Linked DNA regions of Homo sapiens. The protein of the gene in region 5 purifies or fractionates together with the protein of the main gene of each other region. This does not show direct contact. Each region holds a gene or a part of one and is shown on either strand. Other genes may lie near its edges. The genes, in order: BMP2K, PPP6R3, CLTCL1, DLD, DNAJC6, CLINT1 and PIK3C2A.

Region 1 (3,500 bases), on a different chromosome or scaffold from region 5:
GAAGTGCTAGATGAAGGAATAAGGAAGAGAGGTTTGAGCTAAACTTTAAAGAATAAGAATTTCACTAGGTGGAAAGTGGCATTCTAGACAGAGAATTATATTGGTACTAATACATACTCATGATAGTACATGATATTGTTGAGCAGTGTAGAACAAACTAACATGGATGTTGTGTTCATGGAGAGCCGAAGTATGAAACATGAAGTGTTTCTAAGATGTTGACTTGTTCAGAGTTGTAGACGACAAAATTAAGCTTCTTCGGTACTTACAATTAAAGTAAATCCCTATAAACTCTATGCATATGGAAGTTTTTGTGTTATAAATAAGGATATAAATGCCTTAGTTAAATTATTATTGAAATGAGCATGTTGAAATCCAGCTTTTTAATTGAAATCATTAGTATGTTAATGTAAGTGTTTGGACCTGTCTTTAGGGGCACTAAGACCTGGAAATGGCCCTGAAATTTTATTGGGTCAGGGACCTCCTCAGCAGCCGCCACAGCAGCATAGAGTACTCCAGCAACTACAGCAGGGAGATTGGAGATTACAGCAACTCCATTTACAGCATCGTCATCCTCACCAGCAGCAGCAGCAGCAGCAGCAGCAACAGCAACAGCAGCAGCAGCAACAGCAACAGCAGCAGCAGCAGCAGCAGCAGCAGCACCACCACCACCACCACCACCACCTACTTCAAGATGCTTATATGCAGCAGGTAATTTTTTTGTTTCTTTAGATATGGAAGTAGTGTGAAATTGATGCAGCAAATTGAATATCAGTGAATTCCTTTTTGTATCATGGGCACCTTGAACTCTAGATTTGAGTAAACACTTTCCCCAATTTTCTAATTATGAAAGAATACGTATTTAATTTGCAATCAGTGAAATACTTAAGAATACTGTAAAATAGGTTGCATTGTGGCCTTATGAAGAAAAGAATGTTCATCTGAAACATTTAGTATTCACAAATAAGCACTGCAGTTTATAATGAATATTATCTGAGGTTACGTTTTGAGTTCACAGACTAATAATGCTATTGTTGGAAAGGTGATATTAGGCTTTTCAGAAGTAACATTGTCTTAGATTTTTGTCACCCTCCTGGTTTTGGTTGATAGATCCAGAGTGGAGGGTAGTAAGTAGGTGGTACCATGGGATGCCCAGAAGACACCACTGAAGGGGAGATTTAGTGTAATGGGGCTTGGTTAGAAGTCACTCAGGTGTCTTTATCTTCTAGGAAAAGGTAGTAAATGTGTTTTGGTAGCTTTCTTCTAAACATCCTTAAATTGTGCTAAAAATGGTTTTAATTGAATCTAATTGTTGATAATTTTGAAACCAGTTCTGATAAGCATATTTATTAATAAATTATAGTAATTTAGAGTATAGCTATTTTGTATTGATGTTTGGACTACTGATTTCTCAAATCATTATGGTAAGATCAATACTTTAAAAAAGGGCTCTGACACAAAAAAGGCATAACATTTATTAATTTGATTTTCTCGTTGTAGTATCAACATGCAACACAGCAGCAACAGATGCTTCAACAACAATTTTTAATGCATTCGGTATATCAACCACAACCTTCTGCATCACAGTATCCTACAATGGTAACTTAAATAATTTCTAGAGATTTCTCTGAGTATACATTATGGTGTTGGAATTCACAGTATGAATCATATTATTCAGAATTTAGTAATTCAAAATCAAGTAAGTTAATTGACATGTATTTTATCAAAGCCAGTCATATATTCTCAAGCAGCTTTAAATTGCACTGAACTATGGCACCTGAATATGGCACATAGTAATTGACCGATAACGTACTTCTCTTATGTCATTATATAAGGGAAATGATGTCTTACCTATAGTCTTTCGTCACATGTCTCTTTCATTCAGCACATATCTATTGAGTAAAAAAATGAAACCCAAAGGGAGAGTATATTTTCTTCAGAGAATAATTTGACCTTTTTTTTTTTTTTTTTTTTTTTTTTAACAGCAACCACTATATTAGTGACTTTAAGCTACTCTTTTTCTTAAAATACTTAAAAGAGGATTTTTGATTCTGGCCAAGTGAGCCTACCTTTACAACTTTTTAAAAAGATTTATTTCATCTTGCTGTAGTTTTCTAGTAATAGAGCTGCTTCTGTAGATGATTGTTTTTTACGTTTCTGATTTTGTCACCAATGTGAAAGGAAGGAACATAGTAAATAGATGCAGTGCTGACAGTGCTTTAGGACTGGAGCATTGTTTTGTATAATATCATTTCTTTTTTCAGATGCCGCAGTATCAGCAGGCTTTCTTTCAACAGCAGATGCTAGCTCAACATCAGCCGTCTCAACAACAGGCATCACCTGAATATCTTACCTCCCCTCAAGAGTTCTCACCAGCCTTAGTTTCCTACACTTCATCACTTCCAGCTCAGGTTGGAACCATAATGGACTCCTCCTATAGTGCCAATAGGCAAGTATTTTTCCAGTGAAAGCAAAGGAAATTATTGTGGAAGTGGAAGTCATCGTTGAATGGTCGGTCATTAAGTTCTCTTAAATTAGTTTAGAATTTATCTTTCTGTAGAGCCACCCATTCTCTCTTCCTAGTCCTGTCTTCTGGTCCCTTGGCATCCCCATCCTTCCGTTTCCTCAGTTAATTCTGCTAACTGCTATTTGTAGGTAAGGTGTAGCAACATCTAACAGCATTTAGGGCTAAGGATATTATTGGCTTGTATGTAAAGGCATTTTTGGTAATGTAAGTATAAACAACACCCTAACAAGTGACTTCAGCAGTTAAAAAAAAATCCTTGTAGACTTTCTCTATTTACATGTTATTACCTTTGATTAATTTTACTGTTTACTCATAAAGGTTGTATAATTTAATTTAAATAGGTATAAACATTTTTACATATATGTATTTTAAGATGATATATAGTATACATACTGTTACCGTAACATAGTTGGTAATAGTATATTTTGGCTATTGAGACATATTGGTTAGTAGCGTTATAAATTAAATAACTTTGGTACAAAATTTCTTAAACTTATACAAAATGGCACGTGCTTTAGCATCTTGTAACTAAGAATCATCATCAATGCCTCCTAATGTTTTTAGATACCTAGGAGGTAGGAGCTGTTAGACTTCTGTTACATGAACACTGAAGTTCTCATACAATGCTGTTTAAGGATTTGAAACATTAGCTGAGAAAAGGTGTCTATAAGCTTTGGCTCAGAGTTGAGCAGGAGAAACAGCAGCATCAGTAGCATACTTGTACACTGCATCTCAAAAGAGAGCTAAAGTATGCAGTTTGCTATAGAATGCCTCCCAACCTCTGTGTGTGTGTGTGTGTGTGTGTGTGTGTGTGTGTGTGTGTGTGTGTATGCATGCATGCATGTGTGTGCACATGTGCAAGAGACAGATGGTGGGGCGGGTATGGTAGAGAGGGAGACAGAAACGAATGGATTTCTTGAACTACTTTTCTAAAGTAAGAATTGGGGTGGATGAATTAGGACAATTTTGTCTA
Region 2 (3,500 bases), on a different chromosome or scaffold from region 5:
ATCAAAATGAAATTCTTACAATTTTTTTTTTTTTTTGAGATGGAGTCTGGCTCAGTCGCCCAGGCTGGAGTGCAGTGATCTTGGCTCACTGCAAGCTCCGCCTCCTGGGTTCACGCCATTCTCCTGCCTCAGCCTCCTGAGTAGCTGGGGCCACAGGCGCCCGCCACCACACCCAGCGATTTTTTTGTATTTTTAGTAGAGACGGGGTTTCACCGTGTTAGGATGGTCTTGATCTCCTGACCTCGTGATCCGCCCGCCTCGGCCTCCCAGAGTGCAGAGATTACAGGCATGAGCCACCACGCCTGGCCTCTTATAAATTTTTTTGAAAATTATAGAAAATTTACCACGCTAACTATTTGTGTTAGTTGCTTTGAAGAGAAAAAAGATACTCCCTTTCTCTTGGAGAAACGTACTCTTGTCTTTGTATGTTTGTTGTTGGTTTTTTACTAGATTCCATACCAGTTCTGGCATGTCAGATAAGCAGATAGCACGCCATTTAGGCTCTAAAGCAATACTTCACATCCCCATTTAGTCCTCGTTATTTATGAGGGATACCTTCCAAGACTCCTTTGGATGCCTGAAACCACAGCTATCGAACCCTATATATACTATGTGTTTTTCCTATACATACCTGTGACAAAGTTTAATTTATAAATTAAGCACAGGAAGAGATTAATAATAACTAATAATAAAGTAGAACAATTATAAATCTATACTGTAATGAATGTTATGTGAATGTCATCTCTTGGATTAGCATGTCTTACTGTATTATACTCACCTATTTTCAGATCATGGTTGACTGTGGGTAACTGAAACCACAGAAAATGAAACTGTGGTTATGCAAGTACTAATGTGAACTCAGGTTCCTTTTAATTGGTCCTTTTGGACTGAGAGCACATCATTTTTACTTTATTAAATCACTGTTCTGTAAATGTATTTAAGTATTGGCTTAAACATTGAGGTAACCGAATAAAACATGGTTTTTCTTTTTTGTAGAACATGTTCTTCAAGTATACATGGAATAACTTTTTGCATACACAAGTGGAAATTTGTATTGCACTGATTCTTGCAAGTCCTTTTGAAAACACAGAAAATGCCACAATTACCGATCAAGACTCCACTGGTGATAATTTGTTATTAAAACATGTAAGCTTATTTGGTCTCGTTTTTCTCCCACTCTCTCCTGGTTATAGCAGTTTTCCACTTGACTGTGATGTGAATTGAGGTTTAAAGGGCTTGAGGTTAGATTTCAGAGTCTAAATATTTGACAATCATGTGTTCGTTTCACTTTTAACATATAAATCATTATATAAATCAAGTACTGGACAAATAACTATTAAATGAACAGTCTTGTAAGAAAAAAGCTAAGTGGCCTCCTTATTTGGTAAAATTAATAGGTTTGAAGATATATAAATTCTTTGATGATTTGAAGAATCATAGAAATTTAAATACTATGGAAAACATTTGCACTATTATTTGGCTGACCAGAGTGTAGTTTCTTTGCTGAATACGTGACTGAAAGTCAGGAGAACTGAGTTCTTTGTGATGTTGAGAGTCTTCCTGGGGTCTCTTTTTCTCTTCTGTCAAATATGAGATAATTTTACTAAGTCAGTCTTCAGATTTTTTCTTGCTTGGTAGTTCTATGGTACTTTTAAAATTTCTAGCCCACACTTGGTTTACTCGCAAACCTAAAATGTAGAAAAGGCTAGCTTGGAACAGCCAAGTTGATGGGAAAGACAAATGACACCTGAGAAGAACTAGCCCTGCACATTCCAGTATTGCAGCCTACAGCAGTTGTCACTGACTTGCAGACTTTGGGCAAAACCCACCTGTTTTTAATATTAATGCAGTAATGTTAGTTCATCTGGAAGTAAGACGTGCTCACATTTTAAAAGTACAAGCATTACTTTGGATTCTAAGTTAAATTTTTGCCAAGGCATAGTTTTCTTTATTCCATTTTAATTTAGCTCAGGTTTTATATTTCTGTTCTGAATTTTCACAGCTAATAAAACCTGGCTTTCCTTTATAGTTAACTATAGGTAGTTAACTGCACTACCTATAATACTGAGTTTCCTGTAGATGTTCTGTGGAGGGTGTGGATCCTGATTTGAATCTCTGTAGTGTTGTGGGTGTCTGCAGTAGATTGATGATCACATTGCATTTGGCTTAGTAACATTTAGCTTGCTAGATTATGCATACTACTATTCTCTTTAACCTAGAGTTCTGTTTCACTTTAAAGTTTTGATGCTTTGAAGTATTAACTGGAATATTCTTTTTTTTTTTTTCAGCTTTTCCAAAAATGTCAATTAATAGAACGAATACTTGAAGCCTGGGAAATGAATGAGAAGAAACAGTAAGTAAATTGTTTTTTTGAAAGGAATTCAGTTTGGTTGGTAATATGAGGAAAATAATACCTCCTTGCCCTAGTCAGAAAAAAATGGAAATAATTACATGATACTGGCCATTTTACAATTTAAACTTTTCCCCAGATTATTTCATTGTAACAGTTGTTTTTATAATACTAATAATTTCTTGTTAGGTCCTCTTGTTTTTGGGGCAAAACAAGTGAGTTCGGAGTGTTCCCCACCTCTGTGCTGCCTTTGAAACTTCCTGGTCCTTTTTGAATGGCTACTGTTCTAAGAGTTATAAGGTTAAAGTTAAGTCCTTGATGATGTGACTTAGTGTATTTGTCCTGGTCACCTTATGCTCAGAACAGAAGGTATCACGTACATATTTTCATTGTAGAGAAGAGTTGCTTTGTACAGGGACCTAGAGGAAAAAAATTGCTCAGTGTTTTCTTTTTAGAAAATGTTTGTTAGCTGATTGGCAAGGTTATGTGAAGTATTAGTTGATACATGTAAGTAGCTTTGTTACACAAAACGTTTTCTTACAGGTGTTGTCTGTAACAGCATTCCTCTCTAGTGCCCTGGAAGCCTTTATGTCACCCCGTAGATTCTGAAGCATGGTGGCATAAGGGCGTGTTTGGGAAACACTCTGAAGGCATGCTTCTGTGTTTGTTTTTAAGACAGGTTTATTGAGATATAATTCTCATATGGTAAAGCTCATTTTAGGTGTACATTCCTAGGAATTCTGACTGATGCCTGAAGTCACCATCACCACAATCAAGACATTTCTGTCACCCCCAAAATTTCTCTCATGGTCCTTTGTAGTTGATCATTTCCCAGCATTCTTGTTATGTGTCTCTGTGTCTCCAGGAAAGCTAGATGACTCTTGGGAGTCAGCCTTACTTTGTGAGGTTTGATTTTTTTTTTTTAAATCGTTTAATAAGCACTGCTACTAGGGTTTTGATTTGGCTTCATGTGGGAAATTGGCATTTTGTTTGTTTGTTTGTGGCAAGGGGCTAGTATTGGTAGACCTCAGATACATTCTTCCAAATGGAGCTCTTTGGAGATGCTGTTTGTGGCCCAGTTGACATCTCTGGTTATATGTCTGACTCCGTCTTGGCTTCTCTGTGTCCTTCCCAACCTCCAGTCTTCTTG
Region 3 (3,500 bases), on a different chromosome or scaffold from region 5:
CAGAGTTGGAAGGGACAGCAGATTCTGACTGGAGCCCTTTGTTTCATCGGCATCCAGGCCCGGGGAGGGGAAGTGACTCTGCCACTGTGCTGGAACTGAGGCTCCAGGCTGCCTGGCATTGGCCCTTTGTGCCATGCTTGGTGGTGGGCAGCAGGTTATTGGATAATCACAGGCACTCCGACAAGGGGGTTGTTCTGCTTTGGTTGAATGTGACTTTTAGCGTTAATCATCCAGTGTGTGGAGCTGAGGCTCCACTTGCCTCTGTGCCTTGACTAGCACTTGCCCACCACCACAGGCGGTCCCCTTGATTGACCTAAAATCTCTCTTCTAGTTGCACATCATTGAAGTTGGACAGCCTGCAGCGGGAAACCAACCTTTTGTAAAGAAAGCAGTAGATGTGTTTTTTCCTCCAGAGGCACAGAATGATTTTCCAGTGGCTATGCAGGTACGAATGTGCTGCTCTCTAAACATCTTCATGTCCTAAAATCTACTCTAGCACCTCCCAAGATACAGGAGGCTGCCATTTTTAGTCTGCTTCTGCTGTCTCCTGCCACTGTGATGCTTTCAAACCCATTTAGAGGCCTAAGGCTTTGGCGTGTGAGCTGGGAAAGCCCTGTTCGTAGAAAGGAATGCCCGGCATGAGGGTGAGTTAGGGCAGCAGGAAGACGTTGCCAAGTCACACATCAAAGTCCTCAGCTCTTTCCTTCTTATTATAAAAGATTAGATGTTCACTGTGGTATGAGAATATTTAAAGAATAAAATACCTAATGTAGGTGACGGGTTAATGGGTGCAACAAACCACCAGGGCACGTGTATACCTGTGTAACAAAACTGCACGTTCTGCACATGTAACCCAGAACTTATAATAATAAAAAAAAGAATAAAACACTTATTTCCTTTACAATTGGCTGCCATTGAGGGAGCCTAGAGCTCCCAGGGACAGTCCTTTGAGCTGGCATTCAGAATGGCCCAGCCTTTGACACGCAGCCTCTAGTGAAACTAGGTAGTCCCAAGCCCCTGGTGGGAGAATTATTCACCTTTACATCAAGAAGGTTGGGAAAACACCTGAACCTGCATGTGGCATGTGCCTAGCCAGACTTCGAGGAGTTCGTGCTATGAGACCTGAAGTTCTTGTGAGGTTCCCTAAAACAGAAACACATGTCAGCAGGGCCTGTGGTGGTTCCGTGTGTGCTAAGTGTGTTCGTGACAGGATCAAGTGTGCTTTCCTTATTGAGGAGCAGAATATTGTTGTGGAAGTGTCAAAGGCACAGAGTCAGAAAACATTCCTCTGTAGATAAACCAGTTGGATGTAAAATATATAAGAAATCTTGGCCGGGCGCGTTGGCTCACACCTGTCATCTTAGCACTTTGGGAGGCCGAGGCGGGCAGATTGCCTGAGCTCAGGAGTTCGACGCCAGCCTGGGCAACATGGTGAAACCCCGTCTCTACTAAAATATAAAAAATTAACTGGGCATGGCGGTGTGCACCTGTAGTCCCAGCTACATGGGATGCTGAGGCAGGAGAATTTCTAGAACCCAGGAGGCAGAGAGTGCAGTGAGGCAAGATCACACCACTGCATGCCACTGCACCGCGGCCTGGAGCAAGACTTCATTTCCAAAAAATAAATAAATAAATAAATAAGAATAAAAATAAAAAATCTTACAATTTGTTTTATAAAAAATTTAGATCTATACCTTTTCTGAACAAAATTGGCATCACATTATATATGTAAGATTATATAATCTACTCTCCTTTTTACTCTTTTGTTCTCATAAAATATATGTTATCTGTACATTTCTAATAATATCAATAAATGTAACAGCAGGATTAAATATCACCTGAAATCCTAGCACTGCTGATAATTTGGCTACCCCTTTGGAAGTAACTTAACATGCATACATTTGTGCAGATTTATACAGATGGACTCTTATGAAAATGGCTCTGCACTAGCCTTGCTGCTGTATAAACTCCTCTAGCTATGTTGTAGATCATTCTGTTCCAGTAACATAATGTATGTATTTTATTGTCTGTGTCATCTGTTCTGTGGATTTGCTACAACTCATTTAAACAATCCCCTGTTGATTGGTATTTACATTTACAAGAAACACTATAAGGAACATTGTGCTCCATACATCTTTGTATGTTAGTCTAAAAGTCCGAGGATAAATTCCTAGAAATTAAACTGCTGGGTCAGGGGCACACTCTCATCACAGACTCTCCTGACCATGCTGGCCAGTTCACATTCCTACTGATGCTGCCGGTGGTAGCTGGACAGCATCCCATGTTGTGATGTCTTTCCCTTGGTTACCATCAAGGCAGAATTGATGTATCAGCCACTCATATGTATCCGGTTAATTGCCTTTTCCTAATCTTTGCATTTTTTTTCTATTGGGATCTTTTTTTAAAAAGTAGAGATGGGGTCTTGCTATGTTGCCTAGGCCAGTCTTGAACTCCTGGCCTCGAGCGATCTTCCTGCCTCAGCCTCCCAAGCAGCTGGGGTTACAGGTGTGTGTCACTGTGCCCAACTCCAGGATTTTTACCTTATTCGTAAGAGCTTTTTGTACTTGTAGAGTACTAAGTGTCTGATGTATTTTGAATATTTTTCCCAGTCGTAATTTGTGATATGTGGCACCTTATGGAAGTGCTGCATTTTTGTGTGGCAGTGGTATCATGTTTTGAGACTAATTCTGCACCTGAAGATGATCACAACATTTACCTATATTTTCTTTCATTCCTATCCTAATTGTCCTTGTTTTTTATTTAAAATCTTTGACCCATCTGGAATTTACTTTGATCTAAAGAGTAAGATAGAAATTCAGTTCTTTACTCTTACCTCCATCTCCAGATAGCTAGCTAACTATATTAATAATATATGTTATATATTGATTAAAGTGCCTATTTTCCACTAATATGTTACCTACTAATTATTTATTTTTCTAGAGTTGGAGTCTTGCTACGTTGCCCAGGTTTGACTCAAACTCCTGGGCTCAAGTGATCCTCCTGCCTTGGCTTCCCAAGTAGCTGGGACTATAGTCATTAGCCACCACACACTCATTCTTAATAAATTCTCATATATGATTCATTCTCTTTCAGGGCTCTTAATTATTTTCTCTCTCTGTCTCTTCCAGTGGTAAAATCATACTTCAAAAATTACTGTCTGTTTTAATATATATGTTTAATAATCTGGTTGGGCAAATGCATCTGTTTTTTCTCCCCAGCCCCTTCAGGTTTTCTTGTGTGTTAAATATTTTTCTGTAAAAGTTAATAGCATTTGGCAAAACTCAAAGGTTAATAAGTGGTGGTAGAAGGCATGCTGGAACATCATCTTGGCGTTTGAGGTCTTTGTCCAGAACTTTCCCCTTCTCTTATGAACTCACAGCTTGCTTAAAGGGGTTCGATAAACTGTGAAAGGATCGCTCTACCTGAAAGATAAATGGAGTAGCCTGAGTTTATTGGACCTTTATTTGAGAGTGGTTGGACAAAATATTGTCTTTAAAACT
Region 4 (3,500 bases), on a different chromosome or scaffold from region 5:
CCTGTCAGTACCAAGGATATTGATTATTTGCAATGTACTGTTTTGACATTTACTGAATTCACCCATATGGATTATAAGTAACATTGGATGTCTTAAAGCTTCAGTTATAGAAATCATTATCTGGGCAAACTGTGACTATCAGTCTCCCTGCATTCTGTGAAGTAATTTAATCCTGTATCCTCAACTGTTATCCAACCATTATCATTTTGGATATTTTATTTCTAGAGGAAGGGTAGGGGGAGGATTCTAGTAACCCATGACTAACAGTGAGTGAGTGATTTATTCTAGCTTTGAACAGGTCAAGAAATCCTTTTAAAAAAATGCTAATATGATGATGAAGGGAAAAGTTGGACCTCTTATACACTTTGTCTCTTGTTAAATAGGAATCTCATTCTTCTCAACTCATATAACAGGAGAAATGTTAGATTTTCATTTCTAAAGGATATTTTTCATGGCTAACTCTATACCTTTGGCATCACTCAGCAGAGATTATTCAGTGCCTTCTATTTGCCAGGCAGACCCTGAGCCAGAACTTAGATTTTAGTGGAATGAGGCTGAGTGTTCCATAATCAGTTTGGTGATCCCTTGACATTGAGTAAATCATAAATCACTTAGTACCCATGTGTGTAAAGTGTGTAAAAGCTTTGAGTGGATGCAGTAACAAGCATTTTACACACATACTTGTATTTTATCTGAGGTACATGCTTACTGTCTTTTCCTCAGGAATGCAAACTTCATCAGGACAGGGACTGTGTGTGACTGTTTTGTTTAGTATCTAAAGTGATACAGTAGGTAATCAGTACATATTTATTGAATGAATGAACACTGGGGCCTGGTCTGTTTTAATTACTGCTCTGTGGCAAAGCATCCAGTATGGTGTCTTGTACAAAGTAAGTAACCAGCTACAACAGCAATAATATTAACTGATGCATTGAGGGCTTCACTCTGTCTCAGGCACAGATTTAATCCTCATGGCCTTTCTACTACCTGTGTGCTGCTGTTCTCCCCATTTTATAGATGGAAGAGTTAGGTTTTTTAACTAGGAAATGACAGAGCTGGGAGAATCCTTTTGACTTCAGAGCCTACACTGTTAATGTTTTATTGAGTTTTCTTCCTTACATGAGTATTGATTGACTCTCCTGAGGAGTTCAAATCTTATTATGATATAGTCTTGGTTACAACATCTGAGAGATGTCTGAATAGCCTTATGAACCAGGTTCATCAGAATTTGCAAAGTTGTGTGTGTTACTGTTGATGTGACGTTTTATTTCATGACAGCACTTAATCAAACTTGTAACACTTAAACTTACAGCACTTATATCACTCACATTCACTACATTCATTCATTCTTTTATTATTTCGACAAATACTAATATCTACTATGTGTTAGTCATTGGGCTAACTACTGGAGTACCGCAGTGAGCAAGACGGACAAGACCCAGCTTTTATAGAGCTTACAATTCAGTTGAGGGAGACAAACATCCAACATATAATTGTGACAGGGGTCCATAGACTTAAGCATAGGGAGTAATGACATCTATATATGGATTGGGAATGGTCACATAATTCTTTCCTAAGGAATTATGTTGATAGCTAAAAAGGTTGAGAGTAACTCTCGTTACAGGTTGGACCTTTTACTGTAATTCTTTTTTTTATTTAGACTGTAAGAAATAGGGCTATGTCATTTATATATACACACACACAGACACAGCATGTGCAGACACACCCCTCCAAGAGCCTAAAGTAGTGTTTGTAATGTGAAATGCCTGCTGTTAGTGTTTATTTCTAGGTAGATGGAACAGATCGTACATAGGTAGACCAGCATAATTCTATGCATGTAGGCTAAGAGTAGTAATTCACCGTTACTGAAGCTTAAACTGCATGGTATTGGTGAGTAAACAGAACGTGGTAGGAGATGAGGCTGGAGAAATAGTTACTGAAGGAATTTGGATGCTGTACTTAGGAACATGGGCTTTATCTAACAAGACACTGGAGAACCAACAGAGCGTAACAACAGAGAGAATAACATCTGAGTTGGGTTTTAGCTTTGCGGTAGCACTGGGTAGGCTAAAATGGAGGATGTGAATGAGGCTAGAGGCTGCTGGACTGAAGTTTGGAGGTGGATCTGAGAAGGGGAGTGACACTGAGTTGCTAGTATGCACCTAGCACCTCCTTAGGATCTTAACATGCGTACTCTCTGATCCTCACAACCCTAGGCTGCAGGTGTCATCCTTACTATTACCCCCATGTTGTATCAAAGCCCAGAGAGATTGAGTAATTTGCCCAAGAACTTAACGGGGTTAGAGTTTGGAACCCAGGTCTGTTTTACTTCAGATCATTTCTTATTTTACTATATTTCTTCTTTAGGGACCAGGAGGTTATGACTAGAAAGTAGAGTATTGATTTCAGAGGCTGAACAGTTTTGGGTGATAACAAGTATAGAGTGTTAACTATGGGAGGAGGTTACTGAAAAAGACTGGATATTAAGGCCATTGACAATGTAAAAACAACTTCCCTTACCCCTCAACAAAATGTCAACAAATAAACCTTATCAAGTAGTTCTTACATTCAGTAAATTTGGTAATTAATGATTATTGCCTTATGACATCTCTTTTCCTGTTCGTTTTTTCTTTTTAAAAATCTGGTTTTGTTTTTGTTTGTTTTTTTTTTTGAGACAAAGTCTCGCTCTTGTCCCCTAGGCTGGAGTGCAGTGGCGTGATCTTGGCTCACTGCAACTCCACCTCCCGGGTTCAAGTGATTCTCCTGCCTCAGCCTCCCGAGTAGCTGGGATTACAGGTGCCTGCCACCAGCCCGGCTAATTTTTGTATTTTTAGTAGAGATGGGGTTTCACCATGTTGGCCATGCTGGTCTCGAACTCCTGACCTCAGGGGATCCACCCACCTCGGCCTCCCAAAGTGTTGGAATTACAGGCATGAGCCACCGCGCCTGGCCAAAAATCTGATTTTACCTTTATTTTGACATGTGCCTCTTTTTTCTCACTGTGTTTTAAGGTTATTGAAGGTACTGATGAGTCATAAATATTTGATTTCATTCTGTAAAGCATATTCTTGTCATTTTAGTTGAAGTTCTTGATTGTCCTGGAGATTATGGGATCATCTGAGTGTTTTGGAAGGCAATAGAACATAATGGTATATAGGAGCACACATTTCAGAATCTAGAGGACCTTGTTTGAATCCTGGCTAGATTACTTACTAGTTGTGTAGCCTTATGCAAATTATTTAGTTGTTTTCAACCTTTTCTTCCTCTGTTAATGGTAGTATTAAACTATGTCATAGAAATGTAATGAGGCTTACATAAGACAGTACACGTGACTGGCTCACTAACTGGCACATTTTAAGCTACCCAAGTGGTAGGTATTATTGTAGACTGACTTTTTTTTTTTTTTTTTTTTTTGAAACTTGGTCTCACTCTATCATGCAAGCTGGGGTGCAATGGTGCGATCTTGGTTCACTGCAACTTCCACCTCCCGGGTTCAGGAG
Region 5 (3,500 bases):
GGACAATATTTCTATTTTCTCTTACGCTCTCAATTTAAATAAAGATACAGACCTCCTCTAAAGGACTTACAGTGAAATCAGAAAAGTCTAGCTTATTAGGAAAGTTCAATTCCACCTATTTGGCCCAAAGGTTAGAATTCAAATCTGAGAGGCACAGTGCAACATAGAAAAAATTACCTTCTCCCACTCTTAGGGTTGGAGACGCAGAGGTGGAGGTGGCAGAGCGGCGTGGTGTTGACTGGGTAGACGCAGGTCCACTAGGATGAAACACATCTTCCACTCCTGACTGTCCAGCCTGGGTGGGACCAGCTGCACCTCCACCCCCAAACAGGTCACTCAGTAGTTCAGAATTGGTGGGAGGAGCCGCTGGCGGAGAGAAGCTGTTACTCATTGCAGACCCTTCCAGGCCCAAAAGGTCCACATCCTCAGGGGGTGGAGGGGCTGCTGGCTCCTGCTGCTTTTTGCTGGGCTTCTTGACTCCATGAGGCTTGTCACCATTGGCATTGCCATGCGGACTGGAAAGTGTCAGAAGTTCATCATCTGATTGCTCACTTTCCTGATTCACTAGGGCAGCGTGGTCCTCCTCACAGAATGACTTCTCCGATTTCTGATCTGAGGAAGGCCAGTATACCATAAGAGATTAGTTGCTGACCACAGCATTGTTGGTTTTTGTTATAATATATGTATATAATTCCAGAAAGACAGAAGGATTCAGCCCTGAGCAAACAGTGTTTTTAGACCCTAATCAGTGGAACACTTGATGTATTTCACGTTACATTCAACTACCACTTGTTGAGCATCTGAGAGGCAGTAGAGCATAGGGGTAAGGAGCAGGAACTCTGGAGCCAGCCTAGGACTGAATCTCAGCTTCACTACTCACTGGCTCTATGACACTGGGCAAGTTACTTTACTTCTCTGTGCCTTGGTTTCCTCCTCAGCAAAGTGGGGATAACAAATTGTACCTAACGGCCGGGCGTGGTGGTTCACACCTGTAATCCCAGCACTTTAGGAGGCTGAGATAGGATCACTTGAGGTAAGGAGTTTGAAACCAGCTTGGCCAACATGGTGAAAACCCCATCTCTACTAATAATACAAAAATTAGCTGCACATGGTGGCGTGTGCCTGTAATCCCAGCTACTCGGGAGGCTGAGGCATGAGAATTGCTTGAACCCGGGAGGTAGAGGTTGCAATGAGCCAAGATCATGCCATTGTACTCCAGCCTGGGCTACAGAGTGAAACTGTGTCTAAATAAATAAATAGTACCTAACTCACAGGCTACTGTGAGAAATACATGAGATGATATTATAAATCACTCCAATCAATAGTAAGTAGTACCTAAGTGTTGATTTTTTTTTTCAGGCACTATGCTAGGTGCTTTGGCCGGGGAGGGTAGTACAAACCATTATCTGCTAGTCATTTGCTGACACTTCTCACTGTCTTTACTTCTCCATGTGTCCTGTAGCCAAAAGCAAATCCCTTCTCTAACAGTCTGGAGCAGAAGTGAACCACACATTTAAAAAGTGAAAAGAAGAGCTCTGCTGTGAAAGGTCCTTATACCAGCTTGAAAGGGGTACTTTCAGCACAAAATGAGCAGCAGGAAAGAGGCCTCCTCTGGGGAAGGAGTGACCTTCTAAGCCCTCCCTGAGATAGATCTTCCCACAAAAATTTGATATTTAATGCCAGATAGACCCACATTCCAAGTCAAGTATGGATCCACATCCTTTATTCCAAATTATAAAATGTAATAAGCTATGAAAAGGAAAAGATTTTCCTAAGTTTGGCATGAATTCAGTTGGTGGAAAACTGACAGACGTGAATATGAAGATACTTATAGTCTTCATTTATCTCACTTAGGGCTATTGTTTATATGTTCTACTGCAGAAATATTAATATGTTTGATTATAGGTTATTATCTGAGATATCACTTGGGATGTCAAGTTACATCACTTTATGTAGCATATCATCCTTCTAAAATCCAAAAAGTTCTGCATTCCTAAACATACCTGGCTCTGAGAGGTTCAGACAAGAGACTGTGCATCTATACTAAAACCTATTTCAGAGTCTACAGGAATTATCTCTAAATTATTTGCTAAAATGACAGTGGAGAGGAAAGAGTGAAGTTGTATTAAAAGCCCTCGCTGTGAGGAAAATAAGAGGTAAGAAAGGCCAACAGGGGATAAGAAATCTACCTACTGTCCAGATACCACTGGGTTTTCCAAATTTGAGGATTTGCTAGTTCCATTTCTCGAAAGAAAATTCTGAAAGTGAGTCTTTCAATTCAACGGAATTTTATGAACAACTTTTTCATCAAACTGAAGCCTGCAGGCGATGGGAATATTATCTTACATTCACACAACAGAGGAAGGTCAATCAGGATAATTTCAGATAAACCATACCATAGCCAGTTTCCCATGCCTTTCATACCCAAACACTGACTACCCACGTCTACACTGAATCTCACAGTTAGCCTCAGCCAGCTCTAAAGCAAGGATAGCCAATGGGTATTGATTAGGATGCCAACGTCAGGCTACTGCTGGCAGCAGCTGGAAGTGTTATATTGAGGAGGATTCTGAAAATATCTCCAGGTTTGAGAGAAAAGAACCTAGTAATCGAGCCCTTATTTCTGGTATGGCTGTTAAAGCAAGAGCAGAGATATACAGGCCAAGTGTTTGCTTTCTCTGCAGCAGGGTAAGCTCAGTTCTGCCCTGCTAGTGGTTAAGGCTCCCTGGGGGGAATGCTGATTTGATATTTTTATAATATTTAGTTGACAGCGGAAGATAGAATCCTGTGTTAATCTCATTACAGAGGCAGCAGTCTAAAGGGAGATCATAAACAAATCACACTTATTTGTCAGTCCAGGAATGACGTGACCAAAAACACAGCAGAGAGAAGGGAGAATTCAGTTTAAAATGGCCTTTTGCATCAGTCTAAGAGCATCTACTGAGTTGAAAGTAGGGAAGTTGCCTGATTTGAAAAGGGAATGAATTGGAAGGATGTAAACTTGAATGATGTCTTTTAAAAAATTTTTTAGAGATGGAGTTTTGCTCTGTCACCCAGAATGCAGTGCAGTGGCGCAATCATAGCTCACTGCAACCTTGAACTCCTGGGCTCAAGCAGTCTTCCTGCCTTAGCCTCTGACATAGCTAGGACTACAGGCATTTGCCACCACTCCCACCTAATTTTTTAAAATTTTTTGTTGAGATAGGGTCTCACTATATTGCCTGAGCTGGTCTTGAACTCCTGGCCTTCCTATCCTGGCCTTCCAAAGTGCTGGGCTTACAGGTGGGAGTCCGTGTGCCTGGATTGAATGACCTCTAAGTGCTGCTTTAATGTAGTCTGCTTCTAGGGCCAACATCTTTACAGAAGAAATACATAATCATCAAACCATGTGACTTAAAGAAACACTTGTAAATACCTTGCCAACAGAGAGAGGCAAAGAAACCACTTTGTCCGTAATGCCTGGGGTTGTCTGGAGGGATATCTATTGGAGCCTGTCCTGC
Region 6 (3,500 bases), on a different chromosome or scaffold from region 5:
ATAGAGATGATATTTTATAGGATTATGAGGATTAAATGTGAAACAGTATAGTACTTGACATACAGTAAACTCTTGAAACATCTATTACTGTTATTACTGTTACACACAAAACAGTATAACACTAGAAAAATCAAAGGAATACAGTGTTTGTGAAAATAGAGATATCATTGTCAGACTAGGTTATTTGTAAGTATGTAGGAACTATATCTTCATCCATGAAATCATTATTTTCAGTGAGTACTCTCTCTTAAGACTCAGTTTAGCCTACATATAGGACAGCTAATTTAAATACCTCTGTTGTTTATGCCTTGTATTATTTTTGCTAAATCATAAATGGCTTCTACTTTAATATTGCAAAGCATATTGCAGAAATACCCTTTCAAAAGACATGTTGAGGAATAAAGTCTTTGGAAAGACATATCGCGAATTCCATCTGCCAATTCTTAATATTTTGTTCAGCTTGTTTTGTGTATTCTCAAGATTTTAAAGTAACTGCTAATGTAAAACATTACTAAAACATAAAAAGATTTATTTCATAAATGCAAATTGAAGCAGACAATTTATTCTTAAGAGACTGAACAATATCAAGAAAAAGAATCCTCTAAAATATGTGATACCAAATTCATGGTGTTTGACAATGGACAAACAGTATATACAAGGAAAGCACATTGGAGAAAGGGCTTTCTGGTTATTCAACCCCTCAAATTGGCAAGAAATTATTTGGCTTACCAGGGCTCTTTTGCCTGAAAATTAAATACAGGTAAAGGAACGTAATATATTCCTATGTTTGAGCCAATTTATAGCTACTTATTACTTGTGGATAGATTTAGCTAACGAATTATTAAATGTGAGTGATTTTGTTAATGTGCAACAGTGCACATGAATGGTTTGTACTTCATTTAAGAAGAGTCTAGTTAGCCAATTTTAGAATATTTCATTTCTTTTTTTTTTTTTTTTTTGAGACGGGGTCTTGCTCTGTCACTCAGGCTGGAGTGTAATGGTGCCATCTCTGCTTCAGCCTCCTAGGTTTAAGCGATCCTCCCAAGTAGCTTAAGCGATCCTCCCAAGTAGCTGGGACGACAGACACATGTCACAACACCCAGCTAATTTTTGTATTTTGGTAGAAATGGAGTTTTGCCGCATTTCCCAGGCTGGTCTCGAACTCCTGAGCTCAAGCAATCTACCCACCGTGGCCTCCCAAAATGCTGGAATTGCAGGTGTGAGCCACTGTGCCTGGCCTAGAATATTTGTTTTGACATGAATTTTATTTAGCTTCTCAATTCTTAGGACAGTATTTAAGTTCTAGATAACTTTAATATAAATAATCTTTTATAATTTTGCACACACTCATCATTATGTGGTAAACGTACATGCGTGCTTTTTCAACAACTATTGAATGAAATGTTTCATTCAAGAATTCTCATTCAAATAGCTTATATTTTTATAGTAGAAAAAAGGCATGCATTGAAAATTCAATTTTCGGGTTTTTTGTTTGTTTGTTTGTTTGCCATTTGTTTTCATGCATTTTTAGTAAATCATTAAAGAACAGTGCAAGGCCAGGTGCCGTGGCTCACAACTGTAATCCCAACACTTTGGGAGGCCGAGAAGGGAAGATCTCTTGAGCCCAGTAGTCCAAGACTAGCCTGGGCAACACAGACCTTGTCTCTACAAAAAAATTAAAAAATTAGCCGGACATGGTGATGCATGCCTATAGTCCCAGCTACATGGGAGGCTGAAATGGGAGGATCACTTGAACCCAGGAGTTGAAAGCTGCAGTGAGCTGTGATTGTGCCACTGCACTCTAGCCTGGGCAACAGAGTGAAACTTTGTCTCTAAAAAAATTTTTTTTAATATTAAAAAAAAGAACAATGCTAATAGGCATACTGAGCCTTTTTCTATTAATTTTTCTCATACTAATTTTTCATTTATCACTTTTTAAAGTGACTTAGGTTATACGGTTGAAACTACATGTCTTAATTTGTAGTTAAACCCCCATGGTTAAATAATTTTTTTTTTTTTTTTTTTTTTTTTTTGAGACAGGGTCTCACTTGTACCCAGGCTGGAGCGCAGTGGCATGCACGATCTTGACTCACTGCAGCCTTGACCTCCTGGGCTCAATCCATCCTCCCACCTTAGTCCCCCAAGTAAGAGGGACTACAGGTGCTTACCACCATGCCCGGCTAATTTTTTGTAGAGATAGGGTTTCATCATGCTCCCCAGGCTGGGCTCAAACTCTTGAGCTCAGGCAATCCGCCCGCCTCAAGCCTCCCAAAGTGCTAGGATTATAGGCGTGAGCCACTGTGCCCAGCCAGTAATATCCTTAGTTTGATGTATTTGGCTTATAAGTTCGGTACTGAATGGGGCTTTGAAGGATGGCCTGTTTCTCACTAAGCATGTAAAATGTTTAGCCCTGTCATCTGCTGTCCACTCAGCAGCGAGAGGGATTCTTTAAAAATACTAAGTCAAATGGGTTCAGAATTCTCCAGTGGCTTCTCATCTCATTGCTTAATTGCCTGTACAGATCTGGCTCTTTGTTGCCCCGCCTGTGATCTCTTCTCCCACCACTGTCCCTCACTTTCTCTGTTCTGTTCAGTGGACCTCCTGTATTACATAGTATGCACTCACACTCGTCACTATTTTTTTCTGTGCTTGCCTTCCTCTGTTACATGTATTCATCTCCTGCCTCTGATATGCAAGTTCCTTGAGGGCAGGAACTTTGTTTTGTTTACTGCTGTATTACTAACTCTTAGAACAATTATGACACATAGTAGGCGCTCAAATATTTTTGAATGAATACATTAAATTTGGTAAGTTGATATTTATTACAGAGGATATCCTTTAAATCCAGATATTTCTAATAATAAAAGCTAATAGTTATTGAGCATTTGCCATGTGCCAAGAACAAAGGTGACAACATTGTTATGTTCAATTTTCTTATGAGGAAATTGGGCACAGAATGCCAAGAGTGTGCCACAGATAGCACATCTAGAAGATAGTCTAGATTTAAATCTAGATGATATACTTTCAGAATATGTATTTAGCAGTTTATGCTAATCTTTTACAAGACATCATGTAAACAAAAAAATTGTTATACAGGCATACCTCAGAGATATTACAGGTTTAGTTCCAAACCACTGCAATAAAGTGAATATTGGAATAAAGCAAGTCATACAAATTTTTAGTTTCCCAGTTCATATAAAAGTTATGTTTCCACTATGTGGTAGTCTATTAAATGCACAATGGTATTATGTTTAAAAAAGTACATACCTTAATTTAAAAATATCTTATTGCTAAAAAGTACAGCCATCTGAGCTTTCAGCAGGTATTTATCATTCTGCTGGTGGAAAATCTTGCCTCCATGTTGATGGCTGCTGACTTATCAGGGTTGTGGGATTGCTGAAGTTTGGGGTGGCTGTGGCAATTTCTTAAAATAACAATGAAGTTTTCTGCATCATAGATTCTTCCTTTCACAGATGATTTCTCTGTAGCATGCAATGCTG
Region 7 (3,500 bases), on a different chromosome or scaffold from region 5:
CTGAGAGAAATAGATTATCCCAGCTAAGCTGATATTACCATTCCAGATGCAATGTAGTCATCATCTTAAGCAAGTTGAGGTTTCTGGGTAGGTGGGTTATTTACTGTCCAAAGCTCCAAGACTGGGATTCGGAACCCAAGAACTTACATGCTTTTTATCTATGTTGTACATACTCAAACCGAACTCTTTATTTATTATTATTTTTACCAATATGTTGCCAAAGCCAAAGGACTCTTCTGCATTTTTTTTTTAATCACTGAGACAGAAAGCTCACAAGAATCCTATGAGGCCAGAGTATGACCCATCCCTATTTTACAGTTGAGGAAACTGAGATGTAAAGAAGTTAAAAGGAATTACTGTTAATATTTTGGTGTAATAATGGTATTGCAATTAATTAAATGAATCTTATATTTAGAGATGTATACTGTAGAATTTAAAATGTAGTAAAATCAAGTGAGGTATTGGGGTTTGGAGGGCTTATAGATGAAACAAGATTGGCTATATGTTGATAATTGTTGAAGCCGATGATGGATACCTGGGTGTTTATTCTATTATTTACTTTGTGTATATTTGAAAATTTTCATGATAACAAGTTGGAGGTCAAGGAGAGGGCTGCAGAACTCTTTGCAAGCAGCAAAGTTCTGACATTCAAACCCATCTGACTCTAAAAGCCCTCCCTTTTTTTTTTTTTTTTTTTTTTTTTTCACTTTTTTGAGACAGTTTCTCTCTTGTTGCCCAGGCTGGAGTGCAATTGCGTGATCTCAGCTCACCGCAACCTCTGCCTGCTGGGTTCAAGCGATTCTATTGCCTCAGCCTCCCGAGTAGCTGGGATTACAGTCATGCACCACCACGACCGGCTAATTTTGTATTTTTAGTAGAGACGCGGTTTCTCCATGTTGGTCAGATTGGTCTCAAACTCCCGACCTCAGGTGATCTGCCTGCCTCAGCCTTCCAACGTGCTGGGATTACAGGCGTGAGCCACCAAGGTCTGCCAGCCCTCCCTTTTTCAAACTCCAGTGATACAACATGCTATTTTGGAAGGAGTAAGTTCCCTGTCATAGGAGATATTCAAATATGGTTCAAATGGCTTCCCAAATTTAGTTATATGTCACAGTATCCTAGAGAGTTTAGGCCTACTCAGTCCTGATTTGGAGGAAGGGGTGTCAAAGGACAGTATGGAATTTCAGGGGGAAGATAACCAGTTTTTTCAAAACTTTCCCCCTTGGACCTCCATTTGGGACCTCTTGACTAGGTTATTTTAAAGTTTATTCATACTCAGGAGCCTATAAAGTTGGGAAAATGACAAGACAAATAGCAAATGTGAAAATAGAGTACCCTGGGAACAGTTTCTTTTCAGCTCAAAACCCAAAGCACAGGTTGTTAATGCTTTCATTGCGAAACTCAACTTCCTGCCCCTGCTTGACCTTTTTAGTTTAGATTGGTCACTCCTAGTTCAACACATGTGTTCTCCACCCTTTCCTTTGGTGGGGCAGGGGTGTGACACCCATGTAAGTCTCCCTACATTTATTTTTTCTTATGTATTTAAAATATTTGTCACAGTACCATCTTGATATTTTCCTTATTTGGGGTGCTTTCAGAAAGTATCTTGGAGGAATAATGAGGATGGGTGGTTTCCTAAAGATAGGAAGAAGTTTGCCTAGCAAGATCTGGGTAATCAAGTCACATAGGTGTTACAGAGAGCTGCTAGTTGCTCAAACTCTAGGAATTAATTAACTAGGCTGCCAAACAGGATTAGTTTTAGCAGAAACAAGTTCCTAGATCTTAGTTAAAAAATATAGGGGAAGGATTAAAGTAGTAAGCAAATGGATTATGAGAGATATGAGTCAGAAACTGGGTAAGCAATAATATGACTTGATCAGGGGATCAATCAGAGAGTGGAGCTAGATTACTACAGTGTAGCATATCAACAGCTTTACTGATAGCATGCTATCTGAACTGACATGGCTTAGGCTACTTGCCAGTCTTAAGGCAGTCTAACTGCAGCATGGCTGAGGAAGTGTTCATCATTCCATTATACTCTAATCAAACCCCATCTAATAATTTTGTTTGAGTATATCCTAAGAGGGGCCACCAGTAAGGAAACTGAAGTTTGTCTTTTTTTTTTTTTTTTTTAAGACAGGGTCTCACACTGTTTTACCTAGGGTGGAGTGCAGCAGTGCGATCACGGCTCACTGTAGCCTCTACCTCCCATACTCAAGTGATTCTTCTAATGCAGCCTCCTGAGTGGCTGGGACTATAGGTACACGCCACCACACCCAGCTAATTTTTTTGGGTTTTGTGAAGATGAGGTCTCCCTGTGGTGTAAGCCATTGTGCCCAGCCTAGAGTATGTCTTGAAAAGAGAAGACTGTAGTTTTCAGGATCTAGAACGTATGCCATTTGAGGAACTGTTGGAGGCATTTTGTCTGAAGAAGAGAATATTAATTGGAGTTAAATCACTGAATCTGAGTTTCTTTATCTATGAAATAAAGTTGGCTAGACTAGATCCTTTCATAAATAATAGTTAAAATTTGGGAAGTTGCCATGTGGAAGAGGAAGTGGACTTTTTTTTTTTTTTTAAGGTTTTGTATTTTGGACATACATTTTCAAACCAATTCAGGAAGTAGAATACCTGAAAGTCATGGTGCTCTTATAAAACAGGATGAAATGTTGATATACTAATTTTTTCAGTACGTTAAATATATTAAGTATACTACTTTGTGTTACATTAGATGACAATCTGTGCTAGATTATAATAGAAACAACTGGTAGAATGGTGGGTTTGGTGGCTCATGCCTGTAAACCCAGTGCTTTGGGAGGCCGAGGTGGGAGGATTGCTTGAGGCCAAGAATTCGAGACCAATCTGGGGAATGTAGGGAGACCCGTGTCTATAGAAAAAAAAAATAGCTGTGTGTGGTGATGCACGCTGGGACTACAGCTATTCTGTAGTCCCAGCTACTCAAGAAGCTGCAGTAGGAGGATCTCAAGCCCAGGAGTTTGAGGCTGCAATGAGCTATGATGATAAGGCCCTTGTACTCCAGCCAAGGCTACAGAATGAGACCCTGTGTCTAAAAAACAAAGGAATAACTGATAGTAAGGGCTGAAAGTTAAAATACATTGCATAGAAAAACTTAAAATTAAACAAGTCCTATTTGTTTGTTTGTTTTTGTTTGTTTTTTTGAAACAGGGTCTCGCTCTGTCACCCAGGCTCTGGAGTGCAGTGGCGTGATCTCGGCACACTGCAACCTCCACCTCCCAGGTTCAAGTGATTCTCCTGGCTCAGCTTCCCGAGTAGCTGGGACTACAGGTGCATGCCACCATGCCCTGCTAATTTTTGTATTTTTAGTAGAGTTGGGGTTACACCATGTTGACTAGGCTGGTCTCGAGCTCCTGACCTCAAGTGATCCACCCGCCTCAGTCCCCCCAAGTGCTGGGATTATAGGCGTGGCCACCGTGCCTGGCCAAACAAGTCCTATTTGTTTATATATTTTTTTCTGTGAA

What was found.
Region 1: the proteins of DNAJC6 (region 5) and BMP2K purify together in Homo sapiens (affinity purification with mass spectrometry; one large-scale study listed by BioGRID and IntAct). This does not show direct contact.
Region 2: the proteins of DNAJC6 (region 5) and PPP6R3 purify together in Homo sapiens (affinity purification with mass spectrometry, with the first as the bait; one large-scale study listed by BioGRID). This does not show direct contact.
Region 3: the proteins of DNAJC6 (region 5) and CLTCL1 purify together in Homo sapiens (affinity purification with mass spectrometry; one large-scale study listed by BioGRID and IntAct). This does not show direct contact.
Region 4: the proteins of DNAJC6 (region 5) and DLD purify together in Homo sapiens (affinity purification with mass spectrometry, with the first as the bait; one large-scale study listed by BioGRID). This does not show direct contact.
Region 6: the proteins of DNAJC6 (region 5) and CLINT1 purify together in Homo sapiens (affinity purification with mass spectrometry; one large-scale study listed by BioGRID and IntAct). This does not show direct contact.
Region 7: the proteins of DNAJC6 (region 5) and PIK3C2A purify together in Homo sapiens (affinity purification with mass spectrometry; one large-scale study listed by BioGRID and IntAct). This does not show direct contact.

The regions. Positions count from the first base shown.
Region 1 is NC_000004.12:78,870,350-78,873,849, forward strand, and holds part of BMP2K (BMP-2-inducible protein kinase), read left to right. Parts: intron 1-433; coding exon 434-711; intron 712-1,500; coding exon 1,501-1,599; intron 1,600-2,264; coding exon 2,265-2,449; intron 2,450-3,500. UniProt on the Homo sapiens protein: May be involved in osteoblast differentiation.
Region 2 is NC_000011.10:68,568,752-68,572,251, forward strand, and holds part of PPP6R3 (serine/threonine-protein phosphatase 6 regulatory subunit 3), read left to right. Parts: intron 1-996; coding exon 997-1,146; intron 1,147-2,288; coding exon 2,289-2,353; intron 2,354-3,500.
Region 3 is NC_000022.11:19,236,220-19,239,719, reverse strand, and holds part of CLTCL1 (clathrin heavy chain 2), read left to right. Parts: intron 1-331; coding exon 332-445; intron 446-3,500. UniProt on the Homo sapiens protein: Clathrin is the major protein of the polyhedral coat of coated pits and vesicles. Two different adapter protein complexes link the clathrin lattice either to the plasma membrane or to the trans-Golgi network.
Region 4 is NC_000007.14:107,894,183-107,897,682, forward strand, and holds part of DLD (dihydrolipoyl dehydrogenase, mitochondrial isoform 1 precursor), read left to right. Parts: intron 1-3,500. UniProt on the Homo sapiens protein: Lipoamide dehydrogenase is a component of the glycine cleavage system as well as an E3 component of three alpha-ketoacid dehydrogenase complexes (pyruvate-, alpha-ketoglutarate-, and branched-chain amino acid-dehydrogenase complex).
Region 5 is NC_000001.11:65,389,543-65,393,042, reverse strand, and holds part of DNAJC6 (auxilin), read right to left. Parts: intron 3,497-3,500; coding exon 3,416-3,496; intron 613-3,415; coding exon 178-612; intron 1-177. UniProt on the Homo sapiens protein: May act as a protein phosphatase and/or a lipid phosphatase.
Region 6 is NC_000005.10:157,849,146-157,852,645, reverse strand, and holds part of CLINT1 (clathrin interactor 1), read left to right. Parts: intron 1-3,500. UniProt on the Homo sapiens protein: Binds to membranes enriched in phosphatidylinositol 4,5-bisphosphate (PtdIns(4,5)P2). May have a role in transport via clathrin-coated vesicles from the trans-Golgi network to endosomes. Stimulates clathrin assembly.
Region 7 is NC_000011.10:17,162,987-17,166,486, reverse strand, and holds part of PIK3C2A (phosphatidylinositol 4-phosphate 3-kinase C2 domain-containing subunit alpha), read left to right. Parts: intron 1-3,500.